Regions from separate parts of the Homo sapiens genome. Here regions 1 and 3 are each reported to be linked to region 2. The links are microRNA targets in miRTarBase. Many come from high-throughput screens and were not tested one by one. Region 2 holds a microRNA gene; each other region holds the end of a gene's coding sequence.
What was found. Region 2 holds the annotated microRNA hsa-miR-10b-5p (UACCCUGUAGAACCGAAUUUGUG, at 2,341-2,363, shown strand). A microRNA usually pairs through its seed, bases 2 to 8, with sites in the 3' UTR of a target mRNA and lowers its output. Matches are read on the target gene's strand: a 7mer-m8 pairs with bases 2 to 8, a 7mer-A1 pairs with bases 2 to 7 and ends in A, and an 8mer does both.

Region 1 (4,000 bases), not on the chromosome of region 2:
TAGGGGGGAGATTTGACCGGCAGGCTTCTGCGGAGGGCTGCTTCTACAACGCTGACTACCTGGCGGCCCGAGCCCGGCTGGCAGGTGAACTGGCAGGCCAGGAAGAGGAGGAAGCCCTGGAGGGGCTGGAGGTGATGGATGTTTTCCTCCGGTTCTCAGGGCTCCACCTCTTTCGGGCCGTAGAGCCAGGGCTGGTGCAGAAGTTCTCCCTGCGAGACTGCAGCCCACGGCTCAGTGAAGAACTCTACCACCGCTGCCGCCTCAGCAACCTGGAGGGGCTAGGGGGCCGTGCCCAGCTGGCTATGGCTCTCTTTGAGCAGGAGCAGGCCAATAGCACTTAGCCCGCCTGGGGGCCCTAACCTCATTACCTTTCCTTTGTCTGCCTCAGCCCCAGGAAGGGCAAGGCAAGATGGTGGACAGATAGAGAATTGTTGCTGTATTTTTTAAATATGAAAATGTTATTAAACATGTCTTCTGCCAAACTGTTTTTAGGTCTAGGGAAAATTGAGTAAGGAGAAGAATCCAAGGGAAGGGAATGGGGAGTCGTCCCGAGGGACCCACTGCCTCCCCACCTTCTTCCCTTCCCCTTCTCTCCCCCTCCCCTCCCCAGTTTCCAATGACCACACGGCTGCTGTCAGATGAATGACTTTTAATCCAGCCCCACACCCCAAGGTGGCAGAGGAGTGATGCTGGAGCCCGGGGCAAAATGCTGGGGCCCGGGACACGGCTGAAAGTTCCGTCGTGCTGCTTATTTTTGGGCTCCTAGGTGTTGCGCACAACCAGCGACTGCTCCAGCTCCTGCCTGCGCTGCTGGATCTTTAGAGGAAGTGAGAACAGGAGCAGGTGTCAGTGTTCTGGTGAGTGATCAGGACAATCCCACCTACTGACACCGCCTGCCCTGAAAGAGCATCTGGGAGCAGGGAGGGCCATTGCATGGTGAGGCAGCGTGGTGAAGCTTTACTGTGGGGAGCTGCGAGGGCTGCCCACAAGCTGAACAGGGAGGTTTCTCTTGGAGTTGAGGATGGGGAAGCCTCAGGGCAAGGGTCCCTGCATACCTTGCAGTAGAAGTAGCGACTGACGGCCTCCTGGGACCAGGGCTGGTGGTAGAACTCAGCCCGGCGCTCCTCTTCAGGGTTGCCGGCTACATCTGTCATCACCTGGGAGGGAGCGTGGGGTGAGCCCTGAGCCCTGAATCCCCTCACCTGCCCCTGGAGTACAACGTTTACTCTCTTTCCCGCTGTGCTTGTCTTCCACTCCAGTACTCCCTGAGTCTCCCTCTTCACCTTGAGGTCCCGGCTCTGGGAGCGGAGCAGGTCTTGGACATAGCCTTTGGGGTCTCTGGAGAAGCTTAGCATGAAGTCCCTCTGGATCTTGAGCTGGTTTATGGACTCAATCGTCTCATGGATCTGCAGGTAGAAAGATAGATGCTTTCCACCTGGCTTTGGTGATGTGGGAGACGAGGGGAAAGGAAGCGGGTGGGAAGGGGAGGGAGAGGGGGTTTCTTCTGTGAAGGACAACCCCTCAGAGCCCCTGATTTCTCTGAAGTCCCAGGGGAGGAGGGGATGGGCAGAACTAAACTTGGAATGAGGTTCAGCTCCAAGCAGCATGGACGGGCCATGTGTGTCCCATTGGCCCAGAGTCTGGTCTCTTTTTTTTTTTTTTTTTTAATTTAACCCAGACTGCTCATCTGCAACCACACCCTGGTCTCAGAAAAGTCTCCTCTATCATCTCTGGGTTAATGTCCCACTCCAGCTCTGGGCTTGGGCCCCACCTTACTGTCCAGAGCACTGATCTCCTGCTGGTTGGCCGTGGATAGGAGGAAGCTGCTCATCTGCCCCTTTAATGGCTCCTCCACCTCCACGTCAATGTCATAGCACGCCGTCTTCTTCTGGTCTGAAGGGTCCACGCTGCCAGGGAAGTCCAGCCCTTCGTGTCCACGATGCCCCCATACGGCCCCAGGGCCCCGGGGCTGGGGCAGATCCAACAGGGAGGGAGAAGAGATGGGAGTGGGAGGAGAGGGAGGGGCAGGGAAGGCAGGAACGAGATCATTCCCTGGTCTGAGAAGCAAGCTGGGGCCACCTCACCTGATGACATGGTTGATGACAATTGGGTCAGGGGGCAATAGCAGGGCTGTGAGGCGCTGGGGAATCTCAGAAAACTTCAGCCGGGGACAATCAAAAATCTGAAGCAGGACAATTGGGGAGAGAGAGATCACTCTTCTTGAAGAGATCATCATGCAGTTGTAGATCCTTTTGTTCTAGAAAGGCCACAAGAAGCTGAGAGGAAGTCTGATTCCTCAGTGCGCATGGGGATGGGATTGGGGTGGGCTGGTCTGGTGGTGGAGCCACCGGTATGGCTGACAAGATAGGGGGTGGGTCAGTGTGGGGCAGGGGTTGAGAGTGCGGGCCCTGGGTCAGCCTGCTTATGTATCAGTCCTGCCTCTGCCACTTACTATGCAACCTGGAGCAAGTTAACACCTCAGGGCTCAGTGTCTTCATCTCTAGAGTGGGGATGAAAAGAATACCTATCTCCCAGGGCTGCCGTGAGAAGTCAGTGAACTAATACACATAAAGTGCTTGGGACAGTGCCTGGCACATGGTAAGTGCCCAATAAATATCAACTGCTATTTTTACTCCTCAGGTTTATCTGCTGTATTTATTTTTAAATGCATTAATAAGAATATTCTCTGTTTTGGTGGAATTTTGCTCAATCACTTTTGCAGCAATTTGATTTTCCTAACTGCCCAGGAGAGTAGATAGGACAGGTATTGTCACTCCACTTCAAAGATAAGGAAACAAGGTTCAGAATCGCTGAGTCACTTACCCAGAGTCCAGACTCAGGACTAGAACCTGGGGATCCTAACTCCAAGTGCCAAGAATATTACATTCCAGAAAGCGGTTGGCTTTGTAGGGTTTCCAGGTCTTCCTAACTTGGGGGGGCTAACATGGATTGGCTGCAGCACAGAGCTAATCCACAGTAGGGCCTGAACTAGAATCCTGGTCGGTCTCTTGGCTCCAAGACCATGACTGTGTACTGCTTCTGCTACTCAGGAATCTAGAAGGGAGGGGTGGTAGTTACCTTGGTAGAGGTACTTCCCCTGCTGGAGAACTCCGCCTGCTCCCCAGATCCCAGGGTTCAGGAGAGAGGTTACCTGCTGGAAATACTTGTCCCCATTGATGTATTCCTTGTCATGGGAGTCCTGCAGCCTGTTGGTCTTCACATACTGCCACAGGGCCTGGACAATGGCTGAGCGGCTCTGTGTGTGCAGCCCCAGCAGCCGGGCTAGGCGGGGATCCAGTTTGAACTGGGGAGGCTGGGAAAAGGGGACTGTGAAAGTTAGACCAAAGGGAGAGAAAGGAAGGAGCCCAGGGCCAGGCCATTCAGGACTAGGGGGATGTGTTGATTGAGGAAACATGCCCCTGGGGAAGGATAGGTTTGGGAGGGGAAGGAGGTCTCTCAAGATGCACCACTTTGGGACCTAGCCCTGCCCTGAGGGCCTTGTGTGGCGTGTACGGGGCAGCATGGCAGGTGCAGACCTGGTAGTCCAGCATGAGGAGCAGCGTGCAGCGCACACTCAGGTCCCCAGGCCGTTTCACCTGGAAGCCGTCCGTCTCCTGGGTCGTGGGTGTCCGATGCCACTGTCCAGGAGAGAAGAGCTGTGTCTCCCAAAGGCCCATCTGGAGTGGTGGGGCCCAGGACTCTAGGGTGGTCCCTGACCCAAATCTGTGCTGGTTCTTCAGGGATTCTGGCCTGTGGGAGGGTGGCAATTCAAGGGCGGAGGGGCTCTTGGTCTTACCTCAACGAGGTGGTTGTCAGGGCCATAAAGATCTTTGTCCAGCTCGATGACCAAACTCTTGAAGAAAGAAGAGAACTTCCGCTTCTGTTTGCTGGGCTGTGGGAGAGCAACAGGGACCATGGGGGCAGAACAGGGACGAGGTGGGAGGAGCAGAAGGAGGCCAAGTTGGCAGCCGACAGGGCAGTGGGCTTAGATGAAATCCTC
Region 2 (4,122 bases):
TCACTTCTGTTAAGAGCTTGCTAATTAGCAGCCTGTCTTATTAGCGGCTTCAAACCAACGCAGTAAACACCAAGGCAATGCGGTCCCCTCCGCAGCCCAACCCTTCTTAACCTGGTCTAGCCTGGCCAACCTTCTGTTTTTAAAAAAATTCACTGAAAACAAAAACTCAATCCTCTGTGGCCGTGGGTGTGTTGAGTTGCCCGCTTCTGAGCTTTATGTGGACATTCCTTCCCCGCCCCTCCCCCGATCTGTTTGCAGCGGTGTGGGCCCTGGGCTTGGGACACTGGCTGAGCGAGGAGGGATACGGACCTTCTTTTCACCTCTGCTTCTCTGTAACTGCAGTTGGAGAATTTCCGCCCCAGAGGCGCTGGTGCTGCAAGGAGGCATAGGAGGGTGGAGTGGGGTGGATGCGGTGGGGTGGGGCCAGAGACTCGTGGGATCCTTGGCTTGGATGTTTGGATCTTTCTGAGTTGCCTGTGCCGCGAAAGACAGGTACATTTCTGATTAGGCCTGTGAAGCCTCCTGGAGGACCATCTCATTAAGACGATGGTATTGGAGGGAGAGTCACAGAAAGAACTGTGGCCCCTCCCTCACTGCAAAACGGAAGTGATTTTATTTTAATGGGAGTTGGAATATGTGAGGGCTGCAGGAACCAGTCTCCCTCCTTCTTGGTTGGAAAAGCTGGGGCTGGCCTCAGAGACAGGTTTTTTGGCCCCGCTGGGCTGGGCAGTCTAGTCGACCCTTTGTAGACTGTGCACACCCCTAGAAGAGCAACTACCCCTATACACCAGGCTGGCTCAAGTGAAAGGGGCTCTGGGCTCCAGTCTGGAAAATCTGGTGTCCTGGGGACCTCTGGTCTTGCTTCTCTCCTCCCCTGCACTGGCTCTGGGTGCTTATCTCTGCAGAAGCTTCTCGCTAGCAAACCCACATTCAGCGCCCTGTAGCTGAACACAGCACAAAAAGCCCTAGAGATCAAAAGCATTAGTATGGGCAGTTGAGCGGGAGGTGAATATTTAACGCTTTTGTTCATCAATAACTCGTTGGCTTTGACCTGTCTGAACAAGTCGAGCAATAAGGTGAAATGCAGGTCACAGCGTCTAACAAATATGAAAATGTGTATATTCACCCCGGTCTCCAGCCGGCTCAGCAGGCTCCCCCAATTTGTCTGGATAGAGCCTAGGCCCAGTGTCCCAGGAAGGTGGATACTTGGGAGTCTTTGGCATTCAGGGAAATTGGGGGGACTCTCCTGGGATAAACAGATTCTGCAGCCTCATAGCCCTTGTTAGAACTGGCGCCCCCAAAATCCCTACGAAACAGGTAAAGTGGTGGAAGCAAAGGATGGGGGGATGAGCAAAGTGCCAGGCTTGGAGGGGGAGTATCCCTGCCCCACCCCACCAGGCCCAGGCCCAGGCTTGAAACTAAATTTTGAATTATGTGGGAGGTAGGAAGGGCAATCAAGACAGTTAAAAAAAAATCTAACACCTTCAGCCTACAGTTAGGCACCCAAAAGCCCCACTCGAGCCAGGGCATCCCTGTGCCCCTGAAATCCATCGAGGCTCTGAGTGAGTCTGCGCTCTCCATGCCCTGAACTGAGGGACAAGCACTGCACAGTGCCGAGGCGCTGGGGCGGGTGAAATTTGTGAACTTTTGTACTCTTGTGTGCTGCTGTCGGCAAAGCAAAAATAATGAAAGTTTGTGATATGTTTGTAAATGATTTCGAATGACCCCTCGCCCTGCCCTTCACCATTAGCGCGCCGGCCTCAGCCCAAGGCGGCTCGGTGCCTGTGAGCAGCGCCTGCCTCGGGGTCTGCAGCAGCAGCGGAACGGAGAGGCCAGCCCGGATCAGGGCCCATGAAGGTAAATGCGCGACTTCTTGGAGAAGTAGCTTTGGCAGACAACCTGGCTTGGTCGGGCAGTAGGAAAAGGAGTAGACACAGGATATTCCCCTCTCGCTTCTTTTTCTTCTGCCGCTGAGGGCATTTGTTCCTTTCTGGAAAATACCACTTGGTAAGGAGGAGGGTTATTTGGATCCTGGTGGGGGAGGGTGGTTAATAAAGCCGCCATCCTTGGGATGGATTATTTTTCTTTCTTTCTTTCTTTTTTTCTTTCTTAAGAAGAATATTCTGGTTGTTCGCCTGCTTGGTAACCCTGACCCTGGCAGAAGAATGAGGGAACTCATTGCTTCAAATTGTCGCCAAGCCCATTAGGCTACCTGAACTGTCTCAGAAAGTGCGGGTGGCTGCGTCGAACGGTGGTGGCTCAGAGGAAGAGATTGGGGCCGGCAGCGACCTAGGTACCTCACTCTGGGTGGGACCCAGAGGTTGTAACGTTGTCTATATATACCCTGTAGAACCGAATTTGTGTGGTATCCGTATAGTCACAGATTCGATTCTAGGGGAATATATGGTCGATGCAAAAACTTCACGTTTCTTCGGAATAGCCAGAGACCAAAGTGCGACATGGAGACTAGAAGCAGCCGGCGCTGGTCAGCCGCCTCGTTCTGTTTTATTACCTTGGACTCCAGGAGGATCAGCTGCGCCTGGTGACATAGAGCAGCTTTTCCTCTCCAGAAGCTCCTCACCTTTAAACAGAGTATCCTCTGGGTGCTGAAAAGAAAGAAAGACAGAAAGAGAGAAAGAGAGAGAGAGAGAGAAAGAGAGAATGCAAGCCTAATTGGTTGCATGGATGCAGGGCCAAAGGGCTAGGTTTTGGGGTACTAGGGAGTGAGGTACAAGGCCAGCTTGCCCAGTCCCAGCTCTGCCCTCCAGGAACATGAGGTGCAAAGGTACCCAAATGGGGGCTTGCTTGTATTTGGGGCCTGTGGGAAGAAAGCAAGCTTCAAAGAAGCCCAGTGGGGAGCTCTAGGGTGCATTTTGACAAGGTGGAGGTGCCCTTGCCACCATCCCAGCCCACCCCCAGCTACATGGGCAAGGGCAGCGAGGGCCCCCTGCTATTTTGGCAGGGCCCAGCTTTGGCTGGGAACCCCCGGGCCTGGGCACTGGTAGAAAGCATGGCGGTTACTCATTGCCTAATTTGATTCAAGCTGGCCAGATTCTGGTAACTTTTGGGTGACCCTGATGAAGACAAAGCCAGGACGGCGGCCTTTGTATGGCAGAATCCCTGCTCCCGCCGGCTGCAGGCAGGGCGGGCAGGCAGGAACCCTCCTCGCCTGGGGCACTCTGCCCAACTCAGAGGCGAGTTCACCCACCCACCTTTCATTGCTCTGTACCCCAATAGGAGGATTCATTCTCCCTTGAGCTGTGCCTACTTGGTGTCGGGGGGCGGGGGTTGCATTCAGCTGGGGGTGAGTGGAAGGGCCACGGAAGGTTGGCAAAATCAGTGGCAGACAAAAGCTGGGATTACCTGAGGGGAATGGGGTGCTGGGGACTGGAACTACATTAATATCTGGCAGGGGCTCTCAAATGTGCCATAGCAAGCTACTTGATTACACGTATGTTATTTAGTTAAATTTGTGAAAATTATGAGATGCTCACCAACCCGGTGATAAACTTGCTCCCTCGCCATTGGCTGGCCTGGTCACATGGCTGCCCAACTTTATTCAGTTGACAGCAAGTAGGAGGGCCCTATGGAAGGAGAAAAAAAGACAACACGAGAAAAATTAGTATTTTCTACCTTCTGAAATTAATGGTCATGAGTTCGTATATGGTGAACTCCAAGTATGTGGACCCCAAGTTCCCTCCGTGCGAGGAGTATTTGCAGGGCGGCTACCTAGGCGAGCAGGGCGCCGACTACTACGGCGGCGGCGCGCAGGGCGCAGACTTCCAGCCCCCGGGGCTCTACCCACGGCCCGACTTCGGTGAGCAGCCTTTCGGAGGCAGCGGCCCCGGGCCTGGCTCGGCGCTGCCTGCGCGGGGTCACGGACAAGAGCCAGGCGGCCCCGGCGGTCACTACGCCGCTCCAGGAGAGCCTTGCCCAGCTCCCCCGGCGCCTCCGCCGGCGCCCCTGCCTGGCGCCCGGGCCTACAGTCAGTCCGACCCCAAGCAGCCGCCCTCCGGGACGGCACTCAAGCAGCCGGCCGTGGTCTACCCCTGGATGAAGAAGGTGCACGTGAATTCGGGTAAGGCTAGGGTCCAGTAACCTTTCTGTCCACATCCCAGCCCG
Region 3 (4,000 bases), not on the chromosome of region 2:
TCAAGGTGGACGTGTACGGACGCTCCCACAAGCCCCTGCCCCAGGGAACCATGATGGAGACGCTGTCCCGGTACAAGTTCTATCTGGCCTTCGAGAACTCCTTGCACCCCGACTACATCACCGAGAAGCTGTGGAGGAACGCCCTGGAGGCCTGGGCCGTGCCCGTGGTGCTGGGCCCCAGCAGAAGCAACTACGAGAGGTTCCTGCCACCCGACGCCTTCATCCACGTGGACGACTTCCAGAGCCCCAAGGACCTGGCCCGGTACCTGCAGGAGCTGGACAAGGACCACGCCCGCTACCTGAGCTACTTTCGCTGGCGGGAGACGCTGCGGCCTCGCTCCTTCAGCTGGGCACTCGCTTTCTGCAAGGCCTGCTGGAAACTGCAGGAGGAATCCAGGTACCAGACACGCGGCATAGCGGCTTGGTTCACCTGAGAGGCTGGTGTGGGGCCTGGGCTGCCAGGAACCTCATTTTCCTGGGGCCTCACCTGAGTGGGGGCCTCATCTACCTAAGGACTCGTTTGCCTGAAGCTTCACCTGCCTGAGGACTCACCTGCCTGGGACGGTCACCTGTTGCAGCTTCACCTGCCTGGGGATTCACCTACCTGGGTCCTCACTTTCCTGGGGCCTCACCTGCTGGAGTCTTCGGTGGCCAGGTATGTCCCTTACCTGGGATTTCACATGCTGGCTTCCAGGAGCGTCCCCTGCGGAAGCCTGGCCTGCTGGGGATGTCTCCTGGGGACTTTGCCTACTGGGGACCTCGGCTGTTGGGGACTTTACCTGCTGGGACCTGCTCCCAGAGACCTTCCACACTGAATCTCACCTGCTAGGAGCCTCACCTGCTGGGGACCTCACCCTGGAGGGCACTGGGCCCTGGGAACTGGCACCCATGGGGCCCCACCCATGAGTGATGGTTCTGGCTGATTTGTTTGTGATGTTGTTAGCCGCCTGTGAGGGGTGCAGAGAGATAATCACCGCACCGTTTCCAGATGTAATACTGCAAAGAAAACCGATGATGAGGCCGGGTGCGGTGGCTCACACCTGTAATCCCAGCACTTTGGGAGGCCGAGGCAGGCGGATCACAAGGTCAGGAGATCGAGACCATCCTGGCCAATATGGTGAAACCCGTCTCTACTAAAAATACAAAAATTTGCCGGGCGTGGTGGTGCATGCCTGTAATCCCAGCTACTTGGGAAGCTGAGGCAGGAGAATCGCTTGAACCAGAGAGTCGGAGGTTGCAGTAAGCCGAGATCGCGCCACTGCACTCCAGCCTGGCGACAGAGCGAGACTCTGTCTCAAAAAAAAAAAAAAAAAAAAAAAAAATTAGCTGGGTGCGGTGGCCGGTGCCTGTAATCCCAGCTACCCAGGTGGCTGAGACACAAGAATCGCTTGAACCCAGGAGGCAGATGTTGTAGGGAGCCATGATCGCACCACTGCACTCCAACCTGGGCGACACAGTGAGACTGTCTCAAGAAAAAAAAAAAAAGGGGGGAGTGTCCCTTTCTGAGTGTGCAATTCTGTGTGGAAGGTGACTGTGTAGGATCATGGGTCCTGCCTGCTGAGCCCTTATGGGTGGTGATCTCTGTGTCTTGTGAGTGTGCTTGTGTGTGTGTGTGAGAGAGACCCTCATCCGGTGTGCCGATGCGCTGATGACAACCGCAGCCCCAGGGAACTGCAGGGGCTTCTCGGTTTATTTATGTTCCAATTCCCTGGTGGGCTGGGCCCGCGCCCTGTGGTTGGGACGCTGGATCTGGGTGGGAGACAGGAAGGCCGAGGTCCGGGAGGCCCCGGAGGGTGGGCAACACTCACACACACATGCACACTGTGGCAGGGGAGCTTCGGGGGGGCGGCAGACCCCTGATGGTCAGCTTTCTCGCTGTGTGTCCTGGGCTGAACAACACTCCTCTCTGAGGCCAGGCCATCTAGGATGGGGAAACTGAGGCTCGGAGTAAGCGTCACTTGGGCTTCCGCAGCGTCTGGGAACTCCGGCCTCTCTGCGGAGGCCGGGCTGAGTCGGCCCAAAGGGTGGAGGAATCCACCACCTTAAACCTCAGAGTCAGAAGACTGCGGGGGTAGGCGGGGACCCCAGCCAGCGGCAGCCCTGAAACTGCTTCCCAAGCAGATCACCCGCCTGGCCGCCAAGCCCTGCTCTCAGGGCTCCCTGGAAGTCCTGCTGATTAGCCGCCTTGAGTGTCTCCAGCTGTAGCTGTGGGTCCCCGGGAGCCAGGGGCTAGGGATGTTCCTTCATGGCTGGGTGATTCTCCCTGGGGGCGGTTTCCGATCTGCGCCCTCCAGCTTTGCGGGGGGTGGGGGGATGCGGGCTGAGCCTGGGAAGGGACACTGTGGTTAGAGGGTGGTCCTAAGGGCAGACGTGTGGGAAGGAGGGGAGGGGGCCCAGCTAAGGAGAAGGGTTGTAGCCTTGGGAACCCCCAGTCTGAGGGGCAGGAGGGGAGGAGTCTCGCCTCGCCGGTGCCTGCTCTGGGCTCGCAGTGCCCGCCCCTTCCCCGCCCCTCAGACCGACCGTGGGACCCGCCGACCCCTCCCGCGCTCTGGCAACCCAACACCCGAGGCCTGCCAAGCATCAAGGTGACACCGTGGGGAAATCTAAACACCGAGCCGGGCTTTTTCCATACTCCGCAGGGGCTCGTCGTAAATCCCCCCCGTGGAGGCCCGGCCAGGGCTTTTATGGGCCGAGGACCCAGGTCTCTGGGGACCCAGCTCTACACCAGCAGGCGCCGGCTTCGGGCTGGATGGGGCTGGCGCCCGCCCCAGGCCTCTCCCCGCCGGGAGGTGGGCAGCGTGCGGGTATTTTTAGTAGCTGGTGGAAGGAGATAGTGGCTTTCAGCTCACCCTGGTGGGCGAAGACCGGCCCGAGGAGGCCGTCGGATAAGGGAGGCCCAGGTCCACCTGGACCTCACTCTCCTCACCCCCAGAGTGGCTCCCCCTTCCTAGAAACCCACATAGCGGGATCAGTGCGGACAGGGAGACGCTGGGGAACTGATTCCACCTGGATCTCAGGCTCCTCACCCACAGTGTCTCCCCCTTTCCCCCTCTCCAGAAGTCCACACAGCAGAGAGGTGCAGTCAGGAACAAGCTGGGGAAACTGGGTCCACCTAGACCTCAGTCTCTTCATCCCAGAAGCGAGAGGTGCAGTCAGCGACAATCTGGGGAAACTGGGCCCACCTAGACTTCAGTGTCTTCATCCCAGAAGCCCGCACCGCGGAGAGGTGCGGAAGGGAACAAGCTGGGGAAACGGGGTCCACCTAGACCTCGGTCTCTTCATCCGAGCGTAGCTTCCCTTTCCCCTCCCCAGAAGCCCACACAGCGAAGAGGTGCGGACCGGAACACGCTCGGGACGGGCAGAGGGACCCGTAGGGAGGCAGGAAGGACGGTCCCTGCCAACATAGCCCCATTCACCCCATTTTCCTTTTTGTCCGCCATAAACTGGACCCACTTTGCATCTACCCTTCCCCCAAAGCAAACAGCATCCTCCCACTACCCTGCAGCTGGGCCCCCCCCACTGGTCCCCGCTTTCCCGGTGGAGACGGCGACGTGGCCCACACGCGAGCCCCTCGCCGAGGATGAATCACCAGCCAGCTCGAGTTGCCACACTTTATCTCAGTACAGTTATCGCGAGAGTCCCGGGGCCGCGCCGGCGTGCTCTACGCACGCGCAGTCTTTCGCGGGGCCGGCCAGTGGTGCCGTCGAGGCGGGGGGAGTGGCCGCCGCGCCGGCCGAGTGAGGTAGGGTCACACGCAGGCGCACTCGCGCGCCGACAGCTCGTGCACCGTGTGGTAGCGGCTGTGCGCGTCCAGGAAGGACACCTCGTCCTCGTAGGCCGTCGGGCGGCAGCAGGGCTGCGCGCGCACCCGCTCCCGCCGCAGGCGCCGCCGCTGGCGCAGTCGTCGCAGCCCGAGGTCGTAGACGCGCGCGGCAGCCTCGCAGGCGCCTGCGCAGTAGCGGAACAGCACCGTCTCGTCGGACGCGTAGCCCAGGCCCAG

Region 1: the mRNA of CHPF2 is a reported target of hsa-miR-10b-5p. The part of its 3' UTR that is shown has no 7-base or 8-base seed match.
Region 3: the mRNA of FUT6 is a reported target of hsa-miR-10b-5p. The part of its 3' UTR that is shown has no 7-base or 8-base seed match.

The regions. Positions count from the first base shown.
Region 1 is chr7:151,238,341-151,242,340 of GRCh38, forward strand. CHPF2 (chondroitin polymerizing factor 2) reads left to right here. Exons shown (of 4, transcript NM_019015.3): 4 at 1-482. The coding sequence ends at 341. SMARCD3 (SWI/SNF related BAF chromatin remodeling complex subunit D3) reads right to left here. Exons shown (of 13, transcript NM_001003801.2): 6 at 3,797-3,892; 7 at 3,537-3,638; 8 at 3,152-3,313; 9 at 2,085-2,182; 10 at 1,772-1,907; 11 at 1,284-1,406; 12 at 1,056-1,157; 13 at 440-816. The coding sequence ends at 763. It overlaps MIR671 (microRNA 671), which reads left to right and starts at 81; the gene lies at 81-198. It overlaps LOC124901779 (a long non-coding RNA gene), which reads left to right and starts at 1,321. Exons shown (of 2, transcript XR_007060596.1): 1 at 1,321-1,412; 2 at 1,679-2,639. RefSeq lists enhancers at 1,211-2,410, 3,167-3,668.
Region 2 is chr2:176,147,989-176,152,110 of GRCh38, forward strand. It overlaps MIR10B (microRNA 10b), which reads left to right and starts at 2,315; the gene lies at 2,315-2,424. HOXD4 (homeobox D4) reads left to right here and starts at 3,562. Exons shown (of 2, transcript NM_014621.3): 1 at 3,562-4,078. The coding sequence starts at 3,646. RefSeq lists enhancers at 209-752, 3,281-4,014.
Region 3 is chr19:5,827,922-5,831,921 of GRCh38, reverse strand. It overlaps FUT6 (fucosyltransferase 6), which reads left to right. Exons shown (of 3, transcript NM_000150.4): 3 at 1-1,514. The coding sequence ends at 434. NRTN (neurturin) reads right to left here. Exons shown (of 3, transcript NM_004558.5): 3 at 3,598-4,000. The coding sequence ends at 3,749. Among named protein-coding and RNA genes, the nearest start is that of FUT6, 9.8 kb to the left of the region's middle. RefSeq lists silencers at 2,812-2,861, 3,562-3,891 and an enhancer at 3,499-4,000.